Regions from separate parts of the Homo sapiens genome. Here all the other regions are linked to region 2. The links come from fine-mapping of genetic effects on gene expression. A gene starts in region 2. Each other region holds a variant in brackets. All regions are shown on one strand. Distances are from middle to middle.

Region 1 (8,183 bases), 27 kb before region 2:
AGGGGGAAGGTCCCCTTTTACTGAGCACTGTGGCCACAATTTTAACAGTTACTGCAAAATAAAAGTTGCTACATTCTCATGATGATGTGTTTTCCCATCACCTGAAAAATTATTTACCGAGTGTCTGTAGCCAGGGTGAAAAACACCCCTAAAGTTTAGATATGCATCAGTATTTCCCTCAAGAATAGCACACGTTAAAACTTTTATAAAGAGAAAACAAAAATAAGGAGTTGAAAAACATATAAGTATAAATTAATAGCCACAAAAGGGAGAAGTTAAAGAGAGACTATGAAAACATCTTTGTCTTGCAGAAAGATACAATCTGAGAAGCAACCCTGCAGGACTTGGCTGAAAGTCAACAGGCGGCTGATCAAATGAAGCAATAGAAGCTGTGTAATTTGTCACATCAAGCACCTGCGACAAACCCACGCACAATCCGAGGAATGTAGGTGATCTGACAAAAGGCCTTATGTTTAAAATTTACCCTAAGTTTCCCTAAATCCATCACAAATTTCCCCACATAAGCCACTTTTTCAGACACAGTTTAACTATCTTTTCTTGTGACACTAGGTGCATTTGAAGAGTTCTTGGGGGCCGGGTGCAGTGGCTCATGCCCATAATCCCAGCACTTTGGGAGGCCACAGCAGGTGGATCACTTGAGGTCAGGAGTTCGAGACCATCCTGGCCAACATGGTGAAACCCCCTCTCTACTAAAAATACAAAAATTAGCCGGGCGTGGTGGCATGTGCCTGTAATTCTAGTTACTCGGGAGGCTGAGGCGGGAGGATTGCTTGAACATGGGAGGCAGAGGTTACAGTGAGCTGAGATCGCGCCACTGCACTCCAGCCTGGTTGACAGAGCAAGACTCTGTCTCAAAAAAAAAAAAAAAAAAAAAAAAAAGCTTTCTTGGGGGTAGGTGCGGTGGCTCACGCCTGTAATCCTAGCACTTTGGGATGCTAAAGTGGAAGGATGGCTTGAGGCAGGGAGTTTGAGACCAGCCTGGGCAACATAGTGAGACATCATCTCTGCCAAAAAAGAAAAAAAAATCCATGTTGAGACATTTTCGTGTAAAAAAAGAAAAAATTACCTGGGTATGGTGATGTGCACCTGTAATCCTAGCTATTTGGAAGGCGGAGCCAGGAGGATTGCTTGAGCCCCAGAAGTTTGATGTTACAGTGAGCTATGATTGTGTCACTGTTTCAGCTTGGGCAACAGAAAGAGACCCTGTCTCAAAAAAAAAAAAAAAAAGAAAAGAAAAAGAAAAGCTGGACACAGTGGCTCATGCCTGTGATCCCAGCACTTTGGGAGGCTAAGGCAGGTGGATCACCTGAGGTCAGGAGTTCAAGACCAGCCTGACCAACATGGTGAAACCCCATCTCTACTAAAAATACAAAATTAGCCAGGTGTGGTGGCACATGCCTGTAATCCCAGCTACTTGGGAGGCCAAGGCAGGAGAATCGCTTGAACCCGGGAGGTGGAGGTTGCAGTGAGCTGAGATCACGCCATTGCACTCCAGCCTGGGCAACAAGAGCGAAACTCTGTCTCAAAAGAAAAAAAAAAATCTCTACACTTTTTTTACTGTTATAGTGACAATAATAGAGGCTTTTCTCTCCAGGAGCTCTAAGTGAAATTAATGAGAAATCTCATGACCCTAAGAAGAGAGATTTAAAAAACAAACACGCAGGCGGGGTGTGGTGGCTCACACCTGTAATCCCAGCACTTCGGGAGGCTAAGGCGGGTGGATCACTTGAGGTCAGGAGTTCAAGATCAGCCTGGTCAACATGGTGAAACCCCATTTCTACTAAAAATACAAAAATTATCCGGGTATGGTGGCATGCGCGCCTGTAGTCCCAGCTACTCAGGAGGCAGAGGCAGGAGAAGCACTTGAACCCGGGAGGTGGAGGTTGCTGCAGAGAGCTGAGATCGAGCCACTGCACTCCAGCCTGGGCAACAGAGTGAGACTCCGTCTCAAAAAACAAACAAGCAAACAAACAAGCAAACAAACAAAACCACACACACATAAACAAGGATTTGGGGTGGAAAGCAGAGGACTAGGATGGTAAGCAAAATAACTGATTTACGCAGTAAAAGTCATTCATATGCAAAAAGGCCAAAGCTGTTTTAGAGAAGTTTTCTACTGTTGATTTCTGAGGGTTTCAGCACAACCAAGCAGCCACCCCAGGAAAAGCCAGGTAGAGCAAAGGGTCTAAAACGAACTCATTATCCAGCATCTCCCCAGGATAAATGAAGTACCCACCATAAGGGACTGCTCCAGATAGCTGAACGCCACCCTGTAAATGGTACAGCTTTTCTTTAACTGTGTCTGTAAGTTTGCTTTCTTTTTTTGAAACTTTATTTATTTATTTATTTAATTTATTTATTTTGAGACTGGGCTGTGAGATTGGCTAATTTTTGTATTTTTGGTAGAGATGGGGTTTCACTGTGTTGCCAAGGCTGGTCTCAAAGTCTTGGGCTCAAAAATCCAACCGCCTCCACCTCCTGAAGTGCTGGGATTACAAGCATGAGACACTGCACCCGGCCTGTTTGTAAATTTTCTACCGAAGGTGATTTTTCTATCATTTTCAACAGAGATGACCAACATACATACTTAAAGAATGTGAACTTTCAACACAACTTGTTCATAACAAGATTCTGCATATGAGAAAACCAAGAACCAGAAAGACAAGGGATCTGTCAGGAACACCATATGCTGCAACAGAACAATGACACCTGAGGTGACTTTCCCTTGACTTTCCCTTTCTTTTTTTGTTTTTTTTTTTTTTTTGAGACGGAGTCTTGCTCTGTTGCCCAGGCTGGAGTGTAGTGGCCCGATCTTGGCTCACTGCAACCTCCACCTCCCGGGTTCACGCCATTCTCCTGCCTCAGCCTGCCGAGTAGCTGGGACTATAGGCGCCTGCCACCACGCCTGGCTAATTTTTTTGTATTTTTAGTAGAGACGGGGTTTTACCATGTTAGCCATGATGGTCTCGATCTCCTGACCTCGTGATCCATCCGCCTCGGCCTCCCAGAGTGCTGGGATTACAGGCTTGAGCCACTGCGCCCAGCCTGACTTTCCCTTTCTTGTCAGACTGACAAGGCCAGACACTTAAATTCATGCTCTTTAATTTCAAGAAAACCTCTCCCTCCTTCCCTTTTTCCTTTCCTTCCTTCCTCTTTCTCTCTCTCCCTTTCTTATATTTAATTTAAACAAACTTGGTTTCCTGTTTTCTTTGCAGAAAAGTAGAAATAAATTGAAGGGAGGAAGGAACAAGGAGGAGACAGTGAGAGGACTGGGGAGGCTCCCTGTACAAAAGGTGGCAAAAGAGCTGAGGATTGACAGCTGGCAAAAGTCTGTTCTTTGTTTTGGCTTACTTCTCATTTATTGACTATATGTTGCACTTGGGTATTTATATAGTAAAGAAATTAATTTACTTTTCTTTTCTTTCTTTCCTCACTCCTTTCTGCCTCTCCCCTACCTCCCAAATCTTCTTCTTTTTTTTTGAGACAGGGTCTTGCTCTTCACCCACATTGAAGTGCAGTGGCACAATCACAGCTCACTGCAGCCTTGACCTCCTGGGCTCAAGCAATTGTCTTACCTCAGCCTCCCAAATAGCTGGGACCACAGGCATGCACCAACACTCCTGGCTAATTCAAAAAAATGTTTTGTATTAACAGGGTCTCCCTATGTTGCCCAGGCTGCTCTTGAACTCCTGGGCTCAACCAATCTTTGGTCTCCCAAAGTGCTGGGATTAAAGGTGTGAGCCACTGTGCCTGGCACCAAACCTTCTTGACATCTAACCACATTGTAAGATCTGTAGAGTGCAGGTCTACTTAAGAGCCTGAGTTCTAATACCAGACTACCTTGGTGTGAATCCCGGCTTTCCCCAACTTGTTAACTGGGTCATCCTCTGTAAGGTACTTTAACTCCTTGTTCTATAGTTTTCACATCTGTTAAATAAGAAAAATGAACAGAACCTACCTTACAGGCTTGTGGTATGAATTATTTATAAAGTCCTCCCTGAAATACTAGCTATTATTATCATAAAGCTTCACCTTATCTCACAGATAATCAGTATCTTCTTTTTCTCAATTCAACAAAACCACAGTCGGTAGATAGTGCATATTTATTTTGAGAAGTCTTAATGGAGTATGGCTGGTCTAACAGGTTATTTTCTCTCTCTCTTTTTTTTTTTTTTTTGGAAGCAGAGTCTCGCTCTGTTTCCCAGGCTGGAGTAAAGTGGCGTGATCTGGGCTCACTGCAACCTCTGCCTTCTGGGTTCAAGCGATTCTCCTGCCTCAGCCTCCCAAGTAACTGGGATTACAGGCGCCTACCATCACACCCAGCTAATTTTTGAATTTTTAGTAGAGACAGGGTTTCACCATGTTAGCCAGGCTGGTCTCGAACTCCTGATCTCAAGTAATTTGCCCACCTCGGCCTCCCAAATTGCTGGGATTACAGGCATTAGCCACTGCACCCGACCTGGTCTAAC[A/G]GGTTCTTGTAGCACGTCTCAGGAAAGTGGCCTTGTGGTTCAGTCCAGCTCTGGCAGAACACGCTGAAGTTTGAGACTGGACTCAGGCACACCTGTGAGTCAGCTATGTGGATCGGCCTTGAGCTCCAGGCCAGCCTGGGGCCACCCAGGGCCACCCTAGGGATTGCAGTTCCACAGAGCCTGGTACAGATCTGACATGGCCCCAATCAACCTCTCCAGGCCCATCCACTCTCTGCCACTAAAATTATGCCCCAAATGCTTTGCTTCAAAAGCACAGCACTTCCCTGGGCTAGTCCTGCTATTTCTTGCACCGCCCACGCTTGTTCATCTTTATCTGGAACACCTTTCTCCTCCTCACTCCCTGGCAAACTTCCACTTTCCCTTCCAGGTTTTATTTAACTCTCATTTCCTCTATCTGGAAGCCCCCTCAGCAGTGCCTGCCCTCTGTGCCAAGTCTCCTAGTTATGTCTATCCTGATATTTTCCAGATTAATGGACACAATTCTGGCTGACCCTTCCCATAGACTGCCAACTCCTAGAGAGCCCAGCAGCACTTCTGAGTGATCAAATGATGGGCAAGCCTTTTGGATTTCTTTCAAAATTAAGCTCATGGGCTTTTGATCAGTGTTAAGAGTCAGATGAGGACCAGCATGGTGGCTCACACCTGTAATCCCAGCACTTTGGGAGGCCCAGGTGGGAGGATTGCTTGAGCCTAGGGATTCAAGACCAGCCTAGGCAACATAGGGAGACCCTGTCTCTACAAAACAGAAAGAAAAAAAGAGAGAAAATCTGGGCTCCTAGAGATTTGTTCTCAGTGGAAAGTGGGCCAGACATGTGAATTCTTACATTCCTAAAGTGCAGGGTAGCAGTTACTACCACCCATTTTTGGAGGAAGTTTCAAAGGAATCAGACAATTAGCTTGTTTCTTAAGGACTTCTGAGAAAAGAGAAAACAATACTACAATTTCTGCTTAAGTGTCACTCGGCAAACAGGTATAACATGTAGGTCTGACTCAAGTATGGATAGGTAGGAGAGAATTACAAATTTTTCATGAGCTCTGAAGTTGCAGCAACTTATTTACTTCAATGATAGAGCTCTAAAGGATTTGAAGAGTTGTGGAAATAGCAGTAAAATGTCATGCTAGGAGCCTCGTAGAATTGGAGAATGCAAGAGAGAGAAGTGGCCTTACAGATCAATTACTAGTTCTGAATTATGAGTTAGTGATAACATTTTCACTGGTCCCCAGAAAACTGAGATACGTTTGGATAATCTGCTATTTATTTTTTTTATAGTATTGGCTCCAAGTGGTACCATATTATTTTTTAAAAAGCTACATAAATTCAACATAAAGAGTTGTTCCTTATTCTGAGATTAAATTTGTTTACACTTTTATGGTACTAAAATATTCTTTCATGAAAAGATGGTGATTATAAATGGTAGTTTGGTCTTTTTTAAAAAAAAAAAAAAACTACTGAAATATAACACATATATTCCCAATTAGGTTTTTTTTTGAGATAGGGTCTTGCTCTGTTGCCCAGGGTAGAGTGCAGCAGAGATCACGGCTCACTGCAGCCTCCAACTCCTGGGCTCGAGAGATCCTCCTGCTTCAGCCTCTTGAGTAGCTGGGACCCCAGGTGCGTGTTACCACACCTGGCTATTTTTTTTTTCAATTTTTTGTTGAGATGGGATCTCACTGTGTTGCACAGTCTGGTCTCGAACTCCTGGGCTCAAGTGATCCTCCTCTGCCTCAGCCTCCCAAAGTGCTGGGATTACAGGTGTGAGCCACCATACCCAGCGAACGCAAGTTTTATGCAGTCCATTAGAGTGCATGTTAAGCCTACTGTGCTTTGCCACAATGATTTTTTACAATCAAGTAAAATAACTTGGCCTTTACAGGCCTTTAAATGCACAAATTATGCCCTGTTGTGATTTTCATCTGATCAACTCAACCGGATAGCATGAGAAGATTTTATAAATATACACAAATAAATATGCACTTATTTCATAACCTCCACTTATAAGCTAATTGATTCACTTTCTTCCTTATCAGTCACAAAACAGCAGCCACCACTATTTTTTCCTTGCAGTTCACAACATATAGTTCTACTGCAGTAATTCTGCCTCTAGGACCAGATGGGCCAGCTTACTCATGCCCTTCTATTGAGTCATGTAAATATCACAAGATGACACATGCTACCAAGACAAACAGAAAAGCCTTTAAACTCAGCCCTGGAGCCAGGAAAATATTCAAAAACTGTGATGCCAAAAATTTGACCCCATTGAGCTCAATTTTTCATTATTATTCCAATTAGTTTTGTAGTCACTATATTTATGGGAGTTCCTAATGCCTGCTGTTACCTGAAGTTGCTGTTGGGTATGCAGGCTCACATGCTTACCTTTCTTCCTCATAAAAAGTTTGAACTAGCAGCCATAAACTCAACCCATTAAAGAGGCCAAAGTGGCCGGGCGCAGTGGCTTACACCTGTAATCCCAGCCCTCTGAGAGGCTGAGGCGGGCAGATTGCTTGAGTCCAGGAGTTTGAGACCAGCCTGGGCAACGTGGTAAAACACTGTCTCTACTAAAAATACAACAGGCGTGGTGGTGTGTGCCTGTGGTCCCAGCTACTCAGGAAGTGGAGATGGGAGAATCATCTGAGCCTGGGGAGGAGGTCTAGGCAGCAGTGAGCTGAGATTGTGCCACTGTACTCCAGCCTGGGCAACAGAATGAGACCCTATCCCCTCCCGCACCGCCCCCCTCCCAAAAAAGCCAGCTAAAACAAAAGCTGTTACCTAGTGTAAGATGAGTATCCAGTAAAGTTATTTAAAATTTTTTTTAACTTTAGTTTCTTTTGCATTAAAAAAATTTTTTTTTAATCTTAAAAAAAAATAAGACGGGGTCTCACCATGTTGCTCAGGCTGATCTCAAACTCCTGGCCTCAAGTGATCCAACCGCCTTGGCCTCTCAAAGTGCTGGGATTACAGGCGTGAGCCACCGCGCCCAGCCCCAGTAAAGTATTATCTTACTCACCATTTTTTAAAAATTTTTGAAATTTTGAAATAATTTTAGACTTACAGAAAAGTGGTAAAAATACTGCATCTCTGTCCCAGCTTTCCCTCATGCTAACATTTTACATAAACACAGTACACATATCAAAACTAAGAAATTACCACTAGAATAATTCTATTAACTAAACTGTAGACTTTATTAAGATTTCACCGCTTTCTCCACTAATGTCCTTTCTTGGCCTCGAGAGCCAATCCATGATCCCACATAACACAAAAAGGTTAAATTCACCAACCTGTAGGAATCAGGGTTTCATCCACAGGCAAATAAGTATCCGCTTCTATGGTGACTTCATGGTCATTTATATTTGGGGAAGCCTGGGAGGAAAAGGTAGGGGAAAGGTTTTCTGCTTAGTCTTATTTCATATATTTGTTTTTTAACTTATCTTGCAAAAATGTTTTCAGGCATTGACAAAAACTTTTAAAATCTTGTTTGGCTGATGGTCATGATTAAATATAATCAACTAAGTGGAGGTAGATAAGGCCTCAAAATAGCAACAGATAAATTTGGAAGAAACTTTCAAGTGTGCATGCATTTTCTTTTCTAAATAGAATATGAAGGTGAAAAGTCAGAGACCACAGTGGTTTGAAAGCCTTTTGGACCTTGGCTTATTAGTGGAGGTGTTTCTTCT
Region 2 (8,183 bases):
TGAAATAAAAAGTTCTAGTAGAGTCAGAGATGGTATTTGGGGGCAAAGGAAAGAAAGGGGATAAAAATGATTAGTTGCTCCCTCTGATCAGAGACGTATCAAATATGTGGTCAGATATGGTTAGACACATATCACAGCCCATGGCTCATTAAATCATCACAATCCATTTGTTTCACGTGAGAAAATAGGTCTGGAGAGTTTAAGTAAATTGCCCGGGGTCGCACAGCTTTAAGGAAGGAAGCAGAACTTTAAACCAGGAATTTTCAATGCTCCCACCAGGGTGCTCCTGGGCGTGAGCGACAATAAACTGCAGCCTCTAACCTGATCCTTTTTTTTCCTCATCCCTGCTTCTGAACCCAGGTTTTCTAAAGGCACTAAATTTACTTTTTCTATTTTTTCCTTAATGCCTCTCATGGCAGTTAATAGCCAGGTCTTTGGTGGCAACTGGGGGAAACATGAAAAGGAAGGCGTTTCAATGATTGTATGGGTAGGTTGTTTATACCTGTGGCTTATAAGCAAATATTTTCAGCACAGGCTTTGAAAGAAATCATAATGACTGTAGGTGGGACATGCCGATGAAAAATATTTTTAGGCTGGGCGTGGTGGCTCACACCTGTAATCCCAGCACTTTAGGAGGCTGAGGTAGGTGGATCACTTGAGGTCAGGAGTTTGAGACCAGCCCTGACCAATATGGTGAAACCCCGTCTCTACTAAAAATACAAAAATTAGCCGGGTGTGGTGGTGCCCACCTGTAATTCCAGCTACTTGGGAGGTTAAGGCATGAGAATCGCTTGAACCCAGGAGGTGGAGGCTGCAGTGAGCCGAGATAGCGCCACTGCACTAAAAAAAAAAAAAAAAAGAAAAACTTTTTTTTTCTTCTTTTGAGATGAAGTCTTGCTTTGTCACCAGGCTGGAGTGCAGTAGCACAATCTCGGCTCACTGCAACCTCCACCACCCAGGTTTAAGTGATTCTCCTGCCTCAGCCTCCTGAATAGCTGGGATTACAGGCATGCGCCACCATGCCCAGCTAATTTTTGTATTTTTAGTAGAGATGGGTTTCACCATGTCGGCCAGGATGGTCACTGTCTCTTGACCTTGTGATCCACCCACCCAGAGTGCTGGGATTACAGGCGTGAGCCACCGTGCCCGGCAAAAAACATTTTTAAATACAAAAAAAGGTTGAAAAACTCATAGGAGGCATTACTGATTTTTCTAGGCTGTTGTAGCAGGACGAGCCGCAGACAAAACTCCTTAGACACCGGATTGAAGAAGGCAGACTTGCGTCTCAAAAGCCGAGCTCACCGCGTGAGCAATTCCCGTCCCTTTTAAGGGCTTACGACTCTAAGGGGGTCTGCGTGAGAGGGTCGTGATCGATTGAGCAAGCCAGGGGTACCTGACTGGGGGCTGCATGCACCGGTAATCAGAACAGAACACAACAGGACAGGGATTTTCACACTGCTTTTCTATAAAATGTCTGGAATCTATAGATAACATAACTGGTTAGGTCAGGGGTCGATCTTTAACTACCAGGCCCATGGCGTAGTGCCGGGCTGTCTGCCTGTGGATTTCGTTTCTGCCTTTTAGTTTTTACTTCTTTCTTTGGAGGCAGAAATTGGGCATAAGGCAATATGAGGGGTGGTCTCCTCTCTTACTGTAACTAAAAATTTATATAATTTTCTTCTTTAGAATTCTATGAAAGAAAAAAATCCCATTTTCCCAGGGAGAAACTGAACCATTCTGACCTCTGGTTATGGCTGTCATCCAAACAGTTTATATAACCTGTCTGGGAAATTGAAGATTGTTCATATCTAACTCTGCAGTTACAAAAGGACCATGTCTCATGGAATTATCCACGCTCAGATCTTCCGCATGGCTCAAAACCATTTTTGGGATATGGTAATGTCAAGATAACCCCTTATTCTGTCAAGTATTTAAAAAAATTTTTTTTAAATTTAAATTTATTTATTTATTTATTTATTTTTATTTATTTTAGAGACAGGGTCTCACTATGTTGCTCAGGCTGGTCTCAAACTCCTGGCCTCAAGCGATCCTCCCACTTTGGACTCCTAGGATTACAGGTGTGAGCCACCATGCCGGCCTCTGTCAAGTCTTATTACTTTAAATTATTTACCTCTGTTTGTTTATATATACTTACATACTCTGATGGTTTAAAAGAATATGCAGTGAAAATTAAGTCTCCTTCCCATCCTCTGCACCCTGGGCACCCAGGATCCTTTCTTAACAACCACTGTTACCAGTTTATTGTTAACATAGGTTTTAATGCACTAGAAATGTAGTATCAGAGCACCATCAAAATAGTAACAGAGTGTTGTATATCTCCCCTGTAAGAGTCACAGCCCACACCTCTACAACAAACACAGGGTAACAAGAGAAAAGCAAAACAGCTGGGCACAGTGGCTCATGTCTGTAATCCCAGCACTTTGGGAGGCTGAAGTGGGAGGATTGCTTGAGGCCAGTAGTTCGAGGCTGCAAGTCAGCTATAATTGCACTACTCCACTCTAGCCTGGGTGACAGAGCGAGACTCCACCTCTAAAAAATAAAAAATACATAAAAAAGCCAAACAAATTTATTTGATTATAGTTTTATGTGACACGGGAGCTTTCAGAATGAAGACCGACAGATACAAGGAAAACAATCCATTTCTATGCTTAGGTCCAATGGAACATGGACAGCCATGTAGAAATATGATTGGACCAAAAGGGTAAGATCTGTTGCTAATAGAGTGAGTGGGGAAACTCGGCAAGGCCTGTGTTCAGATTTTTCTTGGCCTCCCCATGCAGCATTTCTTCCTCCGGGTATGGGGCAGGACCCCTCTGGAATGAGGGTCTTAATTTCTTTATGGTCAGCTGTTACACAGAAAGGCAGAGGGAAAGGTTAGAGTATATTTTTATTTTTTTGAGATGGGGTCTCACTCTGTCGCCCAGGCTGGAGTGCAGTGGCGCAATCTCGGCTCACTGCAACTTCCGCCTCCCAGATTCAAGTGATTCTCCTGCCTCAGCCTCCCAAGTAGCTGGGATTACAGGTGCCCGCCAGCAGCCTGGCCAACATGGTGAAACCCCATCTCTACCAAAAACACAAAAAAATTAGCCGGGCATGGTGGTGTTCAACAGAAAGCTGAGTTTTGTTTTTTTCCCTGAGGAATTGAAATTTGCTCTCTGTTTTTTAAGATAGAGTTTCGCTCTGCCACCCACGCTGGAGTGCAGTGGCGCAATCTTGGCTCACTGCAACCTCCGCCTCCTGGGTTCAAGCTATTCTCCTGCCTCAGCCTCCTGACTAGCTGGGATTACAGGCACGTGCCACCATGCTCAGCTAATTTTTTTGTATTTTTAGTAGAGACAGGGTTTCACCATGCTGGCCAGGCTGGTCTGGCCAACATGTAACCATGAGCCAAGTTACATATCTTACGTATCGGAAGAACCAAACAGACAGAATGACACACCAAAAGGAAAACCTCAAACCTCCTCTCCAGCAGAATTTGTCTACGCCCCAACCACTGAGCAGAGAGTATTAACTCTCAGTTTCCCTTTGCCAGCTTTATTTCACACCTCATTTTCTGTCTAGTTACACCATGGTGCTAAGAGAGCATGATGTACATTTTCCTTTGCTGCAATCAAGCTGCAATTGTCATTCTTTATTTATGCAATTACTGAGTTAAAGTCTATCTCCCCAGCCAAACCGCAAGAGTGGGGACCTTGTCTGTCCTGTTTAATGAGGTCATCGGATTAATAGAGTTGTCAAATGTATTAATTAATGCCTGATCCTAATTGCCCATGGATTCTGGGATAAAAGTCCATCCTAGTTGGTAGGAGACCTGATCTCTGAGAAGACACTGAGTTGGTCTTCTCTATTTTGTTCCTAAATGGTTATTGGGTAGCTGGTGTACTAGGCAACCACTGAGCTTAGTGGAGCATTTCTGAGACAACCAGGCCTCAAAGAGAATCTGATCAAGGAAGAAGGAAGTAGAAGAGGCAAGTATTTGAATTTCCTTCTTCAGAAGGGAAGAAGTGGGAGCCACACCCCCTCTTGCCTGCTCTTTCCTCTCCAGCCTTCTCCAGGTATCAGGCAGTTCAAAGATTAGGCAGTTCAAAGATCGCTCCAGGATCGCTGAAGTGTATCATACCATCAGCTGACCTTTTACGTTAACTGGGGCAAAGCCTGAACGGATAACCAGAGGCCAACTGCCATAGTTTATTTATTACAGTTTTTCCCAAATGCTGGATGGCCACACGGCCCTCTATGATGCATGCGCTTGCAAGTCAGACGGTCCCAAGCTAGGCGACTTTCCCCCTTGGTCCCTCGCATTGCAAGTGGCCCGCTAGATCCGGGAGGTATGTAGCGTGGGCCTGGGGCCTGCTCGCAGCCCAGGGCACAGTTCAACCCACCTTCCAACTCGGCGAAGCCAAGCACCACGTCCGAGGCTCTCCCCTGCCTGTCTTTGACCTCTAGGGCTGTGATCGTGCAGCCCCAGGAGATGATGTCCACTCTCAAGAGGTCTGACTGCAGCTGGAACTTCTCCACTGTCCCTCCTCCCGAGGGCAGCTCTCCAAACACGGCCCTGGTCACCGAAGCCATAGGGAAAGTTTGGCGTGTGCAGCCACTGCCCGCTCTTCAAACTCCAGCGCTCGCTAAGCTAGAGGCGACCCAAGTTTACAGGAGAAGGGGCGTGACTCGGCTCAGACTCCTCCCTTTCCCTGCCTGGATTTAGGGAGTGACCGTTCCTGCAAAAAATAGCCCCTGGGGCCTTTCTAAATCAATCATTTGCCTGAGGGTAACAAGAGGGGCAAACTTTGCAGCCACACTTGTACTTTTTTTCCTTGGCTCGTCCTGGTTGCATTGCATGTTGGGAATGGTAGTTTTTGGGAGGTGAAATTGCATTTTGGGGCTTGTAGTCTTTCTAAACTCGAATCCTGGGTTGACGGGGTTCTACCCCCATCTCCCCACACCTCAACATGTAATGAGCTGGTCATTAATGTCGGTGGCTATCAGACGAAGAATGGGAAAATACAGATAGCAGACTTACAGTGAGACCGATCTTGGGAAAAAATTAGATTTTAACTCTTTGATACAGGGGGTAAGAAGTACAGCAGTAGTTGGCCGGCTCGGTGGCTCACGCCTGTAATCCCAGCACTTTGGGAGACCGAGGCAGGCGGATCACGAGGTCAGGAGATTGAGACCTTCCTGGCTAACACGGTGAAACCCCGCCTCTACTAAAAATACAAAAAAAAAAAAAAAAAAAAAAAAAAAAAAAAATTAGCTGGGAGTGGTGGTGGGGGCCTGTAGTCCCAGCTACTCGGGAGGCTGAGGCAGGAGAATGGCGTGAACCCGTGAGGCGGAGCTTGCAGTGAGCCGAGATCACGCCACTGCACTCCAGCCTGAGTGACAGAGCGAGACTCCGTCTCAAAACAACAACAACAACAACAACAAAGTACAGTAGTAGCTTAGAAATGAGGTAAATCATCTCAGGCTTCTCTGCACACAGACTTACTGAAGATTCACTCTTTTTGTCCCACGGATGAAGTCCTGGACATGGTTCTGTTAGAGCCACTGCCCAGAAGGCTCTCCTGACGGCCAAAGCTGTGCCAGCCTCGAGGAGCTTGGACCAGACAGGGTCAGGTAGATGGATTAGGCCCTCGGTGTGCGGAGGTGATTAGAGACAGCCTCAGACTTATTTTACTTCAAGGGACTGGAAAGGGACCTCTGGTGTCTTCTGGCTCCTGAAGTCCACAGTTCCTTTAAGAAGGGATTCAGGGAACAAGTATTGATTGAGGTCCTTGTAAATGCCAGGTACTGAACCTTTGTTATCTCCTTTTCTACAAGTAGGATGGAGTCTTCAGGTATGTACAGTTGGAGAGGAAAGACACTAAGGTTATTAAATAATTGTCTTGCTTGATTGTGTCTCAGAATTTGCTGAGGACATTTAAAATGCATATTCCCAGTCCCCACCTCTGGAATTTCTAATTCTGGAAGTCTAGGGTGAAACTCAGGAATCTGCATTTTTCATGTTCCCAAGTTATTCTTCTGCAGATTATCTGGGACCAGATTTAGAGAAATATTGCTCTAAGGCTTGATGAGTAATCTGAATTTTTTTCCCCAAAAAAATAGGCTCTGATGGCAGAAGGATTAAGATAAAGCTATTAAGGGCCTTAATGAGATAACATACAGGCACCTATGTACTTCCTTGCTAAGTCTGGCAACTTTAGAGGAGTACTGAGCCTAGGAAGTGGGAGGATGCTGGGAGCCTAAAGACAAGTTTTACTCAAGCCATCTGCATAATCATCTATCTTTTCTTGATACTGCTCTTGGCTTGGTTCCTGGGTACTTCAGAGGGTATCCAACTAGACTGGGGTGAGTGCAGAAATGAAATGCATCTTTGATTAGGAAATTATGAGAATTGGGATTATGTGCCTGGAATCAGATGCTAATAAAACATAATAACTATCTCTCAGCTTCTTCTGTCTGTAATTTAAGGTATATTTAGCATTCTTGCCATAAAGCCTCAATTCTCCATCATGAAGCAGAAGAATTCTGATAGCAAAGGAAAAATAAAAAAGCTTGCAACAGGCTTCAGTGAAGCTCAACGTATAATAATAAAAAGACCCAAACAAGTCAAATTATAGACTGCATCACACTCATACAATAACCGACAGGCACTCCTATGTGCTGCTTCATCAGAAATTCTCATAAACTCTCAGTTTCATCAGCCACTTAACTTTGTGGTGATTCACACGCAAGCCCTTTGGCAATGCTGTGTTAGCAAGGATGTCTTAGAAAAGTGAGCAGGAAGACCACTTTTTTTTTTCTCAACCTCCAGTTCTCAGTGTTCTGCCAAGCACATGCTGTTACAGAAGGAAATAAATGTATTTGCCTGCCCAATGCTAAATGTCTCTACGGAAGCTCTTTTTACTCCATTTGGTAGAAAATGAATGTACCATGATGTCTCCCTAAAATGTAAAGAGGCCTGGGCGCGGTGGCTCATGCCTGTAATCCCAGCACTTTGGGAGGCAGAAGCGGGTGGATCACCTGAGGTCAGGAGTTCGAGACCAGCTTGATCAATATGGTGAAACGCCATCTCTACTAAAAATAAAAATAAAAAAAAACTAGCCAGGCATGGTGGTATGTGCCTGTAGTCCCAGCTACTCTGGAGGCTGAGACAGGAGAGTTGCTTGAACCAGGGAGGCGGAAGTTGCAGTGAGCTGACGTTGCACCACTGCCTCCAGCCTGGGTGACAGAGTGAGACTCTGTCTCAAAAAAAAAAATGTAAGGAGTACACTTCTTGATTTCATTTTCCTTTGAAGGGTTTAACTAACATATTGTCGCAAATAGCATTACCTTGTGCTTGAATCAACTGTCAGGCACAAACCTTGATTTTTCTCACCCTAATATCCTATTTTTATCCCACAGTGAAACTCTAAAGGAATATCTGTGCACTTAAAAACAAACAAACAAAACCCCTAAATCTAGGGGCAATTCTCCATCTGCAGGGAAGTCAGATGCAAGGTAGTAATCTAGAAAATGAAGCACTGTCAAATTTCAGGAGGTATTTATTTTTATTTTGGGGTAAGGGCCTGAGGATGAGATTATAAGGTAAAGGGAAAAGGGATTATGGCATTTATGTAAAAGGAAAATTACTGGCCAGGCGCGGTGGCTCATGCCTGTAATCCCAGCACTTTGGGAGGCCGAGGCAGGCGGATCACAAGGTCAGAAGATTGAGACCATCTTGGCTAACATGGTGAAACCCCGTCTCTACTAAAAATACAAAAAATTAGCTGGGCATGGTGGCGGGCACCTGTAGTCCCAGCTACTCGGGAGGCTGAGGCAGGAGAATGGTGTGAACCTGGGAGGCGGAGCTTCCAGTGAGCCAAGATCACACCACTGCATTCCAGCCTGGGCAACAGAGAGAGACTCTGTCTCAAAAAAAAAAAAGGAGAATTACTTGAAGTAGATAGCATTTCCTCTAACTAGAAGGGGAGGTGTCAGGGTGGCCAGGTGAAGAATAAGGTCTGGTTTTTTTGTGTGTTTTTTGTTTGTTTGTTTTTTGAGAGGGAGTCTCACTCTGTTGCCCAGGCTGGAGTGCAGTGGCGTGATCTCGGCCCACTGCAACCTCCGCCTCCCGGGTTCAAGCAATTCTCTTGTCTCAGCCTCCTGGGTAGCTGGGACTAACA
Region 3 (8,183 bases), 520 kb after region 2:
AAGGACCATGACATCCTTTTCTGAGCCCCTCTTGCCCAGCCCAGCTTGGGCTGCCCTCTGAGAAAGTTGCCAGCCTACCATATTGAAGATAAATGTTGCTTGGCCCTGTCCAGATGACAGAGATTCAGCCATGCCACGTTCAGACTTGCTTGGGCAGTTAGTTCCCTCTTGGATGCCAAAGCCTGCTGAGGCAATGGATATCATTAGCTGTCAGGGGTGTGCTGAGATCAGCTTGCAATGTCTGCTGAGATCAGTTTGCAATATCTCCTGAGAGCCAATTGTGTGCATCTCTTCTAAACTCTGCATTCAATGACATCACATTAACAGCTTGAAATCAACTCTGGTGGGAGTATTTTCGCCATGGAAATTGGCAAACTCTACAAATCAGGACTTTCTCTCTTCCCAGTCCTCATCCTACCCCACTTCTGGGCATGCTGACATAACAATCATTCACTCTTTCTAGGAAGACTCTCTTCATCCAGCTTCCAGGAGGCCACATTTCTCAATCTGCTTTTCTCAATTTCTTCTTTTGACACTGGAATGCCTCAGGATTCCATTCTTCAACCTCTTCTCTTCCTACACCGATTCCTTGGTGGTCTCATTCAGTTACATGTCTCTAAATTCCATCTTTATGCTGAGGACTCAAAATGTATATTACCAGTTTGGACTTCTTTGAATTCCAGCCCTGTATATCCAGTTGCCTACCTTATTTTTCCACTTGGATATTAAGTAGACATCTCACCTTAAAATGAGTAGAATTGAAATCCCCTCCAGAACCTGCTTGATCTACAGTCTTTTCTGTCTTAGAATGGCAACTTCCAGCTTCTCAGGCCAAAAACTTTGGAGTCATGTTTGACATCATCATTTCTTTCACAATTACACGTGCAATCCACCGGCAAATCCTGTTGGCTCTGCCTTTGAAGACATCTGGAACCTGACCACTTCTTATAATCGGTGGTAATTACTCTCCAAGTCTAGATTTTTGCCACTCTTTTAATTGCTCTCCTGTTTCTCCCTTGGATGCTTACCATCTTTCACTCAGTGTGAAAGCCCCAGTCATTACAATGGGCTGCCAGGCCCTATTGAGTTGACACCTTCTTACTTCTCTGACCTTATCTCCTACTGACTGCATTTTGGGCACATGAGCCTCCTCCTGGTTTCCACAACATGGCGGGTTTGTTTACATCCTCAGCCTGTGTACTGGTTGTTCTTTCTGCTGTCTTCCGGGAAATCGCTTAGTGTTCTTCCTCATCTCTTTCACCAGCTGTCTCAACTGTTATCTGATTGTTATTGAGGTCCACCCTGGCCATTTTTTTTGGTAAAGAAACAGAAAACAATAGTAACAACAACAAAAAAGGCCACCTTGAATGCCCACTCCCACCTCCCATCACTTGCTTTATTTTTTCCCATAGCACTTATCACCTTCTAACATACATATCTTTTATTTATTTATTTCATTTATGTTTTCCCCTCTCCTCTAGAATATAAACTCTATGACAGCAGGGATTTTGGTCTGCTTGGTCACTGTTGTATCTCCAGGGCTTATAAAAGTCCTGATCTACGGTACAGTTGATTCTCATTATTTGTAATATAAGTTATGCTCTATAAAGTCACTGCAAACAATGAATTAGCAAATATTGAACCACTGCTCCTAAGGGAAATGCAGGTTTAGGTTCCAGTGAGCCTCTAGTTACATTTTTGCCAACTGATCAATAGATAACCTTACTTTATGTGTGTTTCTGATTAAAGATGCCTTACTTAATATATATTGTTGATTCATCAGCACTGAGCTCACAGCCAACAGCACTTTAACTCATGCCTGAGCAAGGTGTATCTAACACATGTATTTTCTCTGTAAGGCACATCACAGCCTTATTGTTTTTAGGAATACTAGACTTGAGGGTCATTTTTAGAGAGTGAAATTGCTAACAAAACCACAAAAGTTTGAAAAATAAGGCACTAGGTTGACCACAGAAGGTCACTTGTTTACAGTATGAGAATGGAAACAAGAGGGCAGAGTATTGCCTTGTTCACCTTCGTCTGTTGACGTGCACATAAGGTAACTCAATATTTTGCCACTTGGTGCATGCCTACAAATGCCTGCAAAAACTCTGAATACTGATTTGGGGGTTACAAATAAATTTTAGTCAGTAGGCAAATTTACAAATGCAAAAATCTTCAAATAGTGGGGATCAGCTGTATATTCTCAACATCTACTTATTGAGAATGTAAACTTGATTCTCTGATACTGACACACACGTGGCCTCTGGAAATCTTGAAGTTAAACATCTGCAGGGCATCTACCTAGTGTAATTTGGATAGTTCCTTAGAGCTGCATGTCTTAATGTCTTCTTCCACTTTTTCCTTATCTTGGTTTGAAAGGCTAGGAAAGGATTCACTCCTTTGGGCTTCAAAACATCCTTGTTATATTGAACATGTGTTATAAATAATCAGGACTGGAAACACAGAAGTCAGGGTGAGCTGAGGAGGGGAGAAGAGCAGATAGCACTTCCTCATCTGTGCATTAACACATGATGAGTGGCAAATTGTATTTTCCAAAGATGGCCAGTGTCTCCTATCGTCTGTGCTCTTCTACGTTGTGACCTTAGTTCCCCCTCATCAAGACGTGGAGTCCACTTGAATCTGAGTGGGCTTGTAATTGTTCAAACAGTAGAGTAGGGAAAGTGATACTGCTTGACTTCTGAGGCTCAATCATAAAAAGTGACGCAGCTTCCTCTTAGTTTTCTAGAACACTAGTTCTTGGAGCCTTGAGTCTGAATACCTAGGCCACCATGTTGTGAAAACACCAACCCATGTATAGAGGCCATGGGTAGGTAATGAGTCACCTATCCTCGTCTTTGAGTCCTATTAGCATAGGAACCAGACCTGTGAGGAAGGGAGCCTTGAGATGATATTTGCTCCCGGCCATCAAGTAACCATTGGCCTTTGCTTCTTTCCAGCTAAGGTCCAAGACATTGTGGAACAGAGACAAGCCATTTCTACTGTGTCCTTATTGAATACCTGGCCCACAGTATCCCTGACCATAACAAAATGGTAAGGGTTTAAGTGGTAAAGTCGTTACATGTTTTGAAGGTGGTTAATTCTACGGTAAGTGACCAGACAAATGGTTCTAAATTCACTTGTGTTGCTAGTGTCATAAGACAAAATTACAACAAATTTGGTTTAAAGATCTTAATTGCTGCCTGTGTTTTTGAGGTCTTAGCCATAAAATCTTTGCCTAGATCAATGTCCTGAAGCATTTCTCCTGTGTTTTCCTCTAGTAGTGTTATAGTTTCAGATCTTACATTTA[C/T]GTCTTTAATCCATGTTGTGTTGATTTTTGTATATGGTGAGAAATAGGGATCCAATTTCATTCTTCCGGATATGGATATCCAGTTTTTCCAACACCGTATATTGAAGAGAGTATTTTTTCCCCAGTGTATGTTCTTGGCACCTTTGTTGAAAATAGTTTGCTATAAATACGTGGATTTATTTCTGGGTTCTCTATTCTGTTTCACTGGTCTATATGTCTTTTTATACTAAATATCATGCCATTTTGGTTACTATATGTAACCAAATATAGTATATTTTGAAGTCAGATTGTGTAATGCCTACCACTTTGTTCTTTCTACTCAGTATTGCTTGGCTATTTGGGGTGTTTTGTAGTTCCATATAAACTTCAGGATTATTTTTCTATTTCTGTGAAGAATGTTATTGGTATTTTGATAAGAGATTGAATCTGTAGATTACTTTGGGTAGTATGGTCATTTTAACAATATTAATTCTTCCAATTCATGAGCATGGAACGTCTATTTGTTTGTGTCTTCTTCAATTTCTTTCATCGGAAAGAATTTATTAAATTTGATTAAATTTATTCCTAGACAATTAATTTTTTATAGCTATTTTAAATGGGATTACTTTCTTGATTTCTTCTTCAGCAAGTTAATTATTGGTATATAGAAATGCTATTGATTATGTATGTTGATTTTGTATTCTGCAACCTTGTTAAATTCATTTATCAGTATAGCCATTATAGAAAACACTATGGAAGTTTCTCAAAAAATTAAAAATAGAACTACCATGTGATCCAGAAATCCCACTGCTGGGTATTTATCCAAAGGAAAAAAAATCAATATATCAAAGGGAGACCTGCACTCCCATGTTTATTGCAGCACTATTCACAATAGCCAAGATACAGTATCAATCTAAGTGTCCATCAACAGATGAATGGATAAAGCAAATGTGATACACACACACACACACACACACACACACACACACAATGGAATACTATTAAGCCGTAAAAAAGAATGAAATTCTATCATTTGCAGGAACATGTATGGAATTGAAGGGCATCTTGTTAAGTAAAATCAGCCAGGCACCGAAAGACAAATATTGCATATTCTTACTCATATGTGGGAGCTAAAAAGATGGATCTCATGGAGGTAGAGAAAAGAATGGTAGCTACTAGAGGCTATGAAGGGTGTGTGGGATGAAGAGAGGTTGGTTAATAGGTACAGACATATAGTTAGACGGAATAAGCGCTAGTATTCAGCCTCAAAGTAGGGTGACTATAGTTAACAAAAACATATTGAGTATCTCAAAATAGCCAGAAGAGAAAATTTGAAATGTTCCTAGCTCAAAGAAATGATACATGTTCAAGGCGATGGATATCCTAAATACCCTGATTTGATCATTACACATTCTATGGCTGTGTCAAGATATCACAGATACCCCATAAATATGTGTAATTATTATGTATCAAAAACTTTATATAAAAAACATTAATTTGCTGTATTTTTGATTCTACAATTGGGCAGCACTTTATTCCATAAAATAGAATGAGTGTTCTGATGAGCCAAGAAGAGGAGGTTGGTTTTACAGACAGAAAAGGGCTGTGGAAAGCAGAAAAAAACAAACAAAAAAAATGTGGATTGGTCATTTCAAAGTTTCTTTTCATGTAAAGGTTAAAGCAGAGGGGACTTTCTTGTCCTGCTGGCACTGGATCTAGGTCAGTGTTGGAGACGATGTCTGGGACTCAGGGCCTTCGCAGATCACAGAGGCTGGTCTTGCACAACCTCTAAGAGGCCAGGCCAGGCCATGGCTTACCTAAGAGCTCAGCCCAGGGAAGCCCTAGGTCCTTTCCTGGCATCTTAGAGGGAACCATGTCTTACTGGCTCAGGCTAGACTTGCACATTAATCCACTGAGTTGACTTTGGATCTTACAGGCTCAAAGGGTGGTCTTTGGGAGCAGGAAGTGATCAGGACCCTGGTCAGATTCATATATCTGCAACTGAGCCCACTCAAAGAAATAAATAGAAAAATTACATATTTTTGGTTATTTGCCTTAATGTCACAGATTACCATTAGGCCAAAGATCTTCTGAGGTATATGCGTACAAGGTGATTTTTTAGTGTTTTTTTTTTTAAATTCTCTCTTTTTCTATAAATTTTAATGATGACTTGAGTATAAAACAAGATGATCCACTCTGCAGCACCAAAGGTGGGCAAGAGAAGAGATCAGAATCTGGTATGAGACTGAAAATCACTGTGGCAACCAGCTTCAGTGGGGCAGCTGGGGTTGGCTCTGAAGAAAGTCTGTTCCATTTGTATAGCAGACAGGAGCCCATGGGGTTCCCATCAGCTAGCACTGGGAGTGGACTTCAGAGGCTGCACGGGCTGCTGTTGGACTGGTCTAGGGGACGGGGGAGGAGGGAAGATGCCTGTGAGGCAAGGCAGAAGGGCTTCTAGACCTCAGACTGAGGGTCAGGGAAGACCTATCTTCCTAAAGGTGTTGGGGAATAGTTAGGCTAGCAGATCAGAACAGGTCAAAAGAATAAGCACTATGGTAGAGGCTATTGTGGGTTTGGGGAAGGGGAGAGAGAATAAAGGGAGGAGAGATCTGCAGCTTGTGTGCCTACACTGTTTCTCAGAAGCCTAGGCCTGGGAGCTGGTTAGCAGCAAGAACACACAATAGGGAAAGCCCCGTAATTGTCCTGGCTCCTGGCACTGGGAGACTGACTTAGTTCTCATGGCGAGGAGCTCTCTGAGAGTATCACCCGGGCAGAAATGTAAGGAGCACACCTGGTTTTGGCCAGTCATTGCCATGTTTGCAATAACATGGCTGTGGGCCAATATCATTAGGCAACTTTGTGACTTGGTCATTGAGCAATGATCGAGGTCCTATTTGAAAGCTAAGGTCAAGCTTATGAAGCAATGCCAGCTTGTAACATCGTGCAGGTTTATTTAACACAGATGAAACCAAGACATATCTTTACCATCCAGGAGTAAATTATCCCAGGCACAGGGAAAGATGAAGTAGGAATGTTTCTTTTGGTGTCTTCCATGTCTAGTTTCAGAGACCCCATTCAGCTCCCATCTCACTCTGTATCTCACCCCTGGCCTGTGCTCTATTCTCTCAGGGCCACGATCCTTCCTTTAGTCTTCCTCCATCTCTCCATCCCTCTTTCCTTCCTTCTTTCCTCAAATATATTTTTTGAAACAGTACTCAGGATTTTATTTGTTTATGTTTTAATTTCAACTTTTATCATAGATTAAAGGGTACACATGCAGGTTTATTACATGGGTAAATTGCATCACCCTGAGGCTTGGGATCCCAATGATCCCATCACCCAGGGAATAAGTATAGGACGCAACAGGTGGCACTCCAGCCCATGCCCCCTGCTCCCTTCCTTCCCCATCTAGTGATCCCCAGTGCCTATTGTTCCCATCTTCGTGATCATGTGTCTTCAACGTTTAGGCCCCACTTACAAGTGATAACATGCAATATTTTGTTTTAGGTTCTTACATTAGGTCATTTATGGAGGTCATAATGCCTTCCACCTCCATCCATGTTGCGAAAGGACATGATTTCATTCTTTTTTATGGCTGCATAGTATTCCATGGTGTATTTGTACCTCATTTTCTCTCTCCAATCCACTGTTGATGGGCTCTTAGGTTGATTCCATGTCCTTGCTATTGTGAATGGTGCTGCAGTGAACATAGGAGCATATGTGTCTTTAAGATAGGATGAATTACTTTCCTTTGGGTATATACTCAGTAGTGGGATTGCTGGGTCTAATGGTTGTTCTATTTTGAGTTCCTTGAGAAATCTCCAAACTGTCTTCCACAGTGGCTCAACTAGTTTGTGTTTCCATTAAGAGCATATAAGCTTTCCCCTTTCCTCTGCAGCCTCACCAGCAACTCTTATTTTCTGTCTTTTTAATAATAGCCATTCTGACTGGTGTGAGATGTTATCTCATTGTGGTTTTGATTTGTATTTCTCGAAATTATGGAATGCTGCATAAATTTGTGTGTCATCCTTGTGAAGGGGCCGTGCTAATGTTCTCTGTATTGTTCCAGTTTTAGTACATGTACTGCCGAAGCGAGCACTTGAATATTTTTTGAGCACCCGGTATGTGCCAAGGGTAGAGCAGAAAGTCTCTTCTCCCATGGGTCTTATATTCTAGTCAGGCGAGACTTACTACAAACAAACATAGAGCCATTGAACATATCAGGTGGTAAAAGGTGCCACGAAGGAAAATGAAATAGGGGAAAGGTACACTCAGCATGTCCAGGAAAGACTGGTCTGACAGGATGCTCTCTGAGGAGAGCCTTGGAAGCAGTGAAGGGGAAGCCAGATGGGTATGTGGGGGCGAAAACAAGGGGGGCCCAAGGCCTCAGGTGGGAGCCATTCTCGAATCAGCAGGGAGGCCTGTGTGGCCTCACTGCTGAGTCAGACAGAGAGGAGGTGGGAAGAGATGAGGTCAGAGGGAACTGAGGGTCAGATGGTATGGTAAGAGCTGGCTGTATCTGACTCAGCTTCAGGAATTTGCCTTCCCAGGGTCAGTTTTCTTAGTGGCTTCTTAATTACTGAAGATACATCAAAACTAAAATGAATGAATCTGAAGTGTCCTTTCAATTTTGGGGGAGAAATACTTGAACAAGGGGCACCTCCCTTCAAACCCCACAGGTATCTGCTTTTGAAAGCTTTGCTTCCCTTCTCCTCTCTAAAAGTTGTTTCCAGGCTGAGGAGCTGCGGGGGTGGCGGGAGAAGGGGGACTTCCTGAAGCAGGAACAGAAAACACCAGACTGTTCTCTGGCAATAAGCCTCCTCCCACCCAGCAGACATCTCAGTGGGGGGAGGTGAGGCAGGAGGTGGGTGACGCGTCGCGTGTGGCCTGGCCC

Which allele goes with the higher level. Alleles are on the strand shown, and positions count from the first base shown. SD is a standard deviation of normalised expression in the study named. Not every link is listed here.
With allele T in place of C in region 3, the expression in aorta of the gene that starts at base 4,641 in region 2 is lower (moderate effect, 0.64 SD a copy in GTEx).

Evidence for each region.
Region 1: its variant is fine-mapped to the expression of GALM in pancreas (GTEx, PIP above 0.99).
Region 3: its variant is fine-mapped to the expression of GALM in aorta (GTEx, PIP 0.98).

What each region holds. Positions count from the first base shown.
Region 1 is chr2:38,689,499-38,697,681 of GRCh38, reverse strand. GALM (galactose mutarotase) reads right to left here. Exons shown (of 7, transcript NM_138801.3): 4 at 7,788-7,869. LOC124905993 (a long non-coding RNA gene) reads left to right here. Exons shown (of 3, transcript XR_007086292.1): 2 at 312-445. Among named protein-coding and RNA genes, the nearest start is that of GALM, 27 kb to the right of the region's middle. RefSeq lists a silencer at 4,661-4,955. The variant A/G (reference allele first, on the strand shown) is at 4,491.
Region 2 is chr2:38,662,572-38,670,754 of GRCh38, reverse strand. GALM (galactose mutarotase) reads right to left here and starts at 4,641. Exons shown (of 7, transcript NM_138801.3): 1 at 4,404-4,641. The coding sequence starts at 4,593. RefSeq lists enhancers at 3,864-4,376, 4,377-4,889.
Region 3 is chr2:38,146,620-38,154,802 of GRCh38, reverse strand. All of the region lies in intron 2 of CYP1B1-AS1 (CYP1B1 antisense RNA 1), which reads right to left. LOC107985871 (a long non-coding RNA gene) reads left to right here and starts at 4,637. Exons shown (of 4, transcript XR_007086290.1): 1 at 4,637-7,968. It also overlaps the pseudogene RNU6-951P. RefSeq lists enhancers at 7,542-7,631, 7,662-7,841, 7,042-7,850, 7,922-8,021, 8,052-8,101 and 1 more. The variant C/T (reference allele first, on the strand shown) is at 3,311.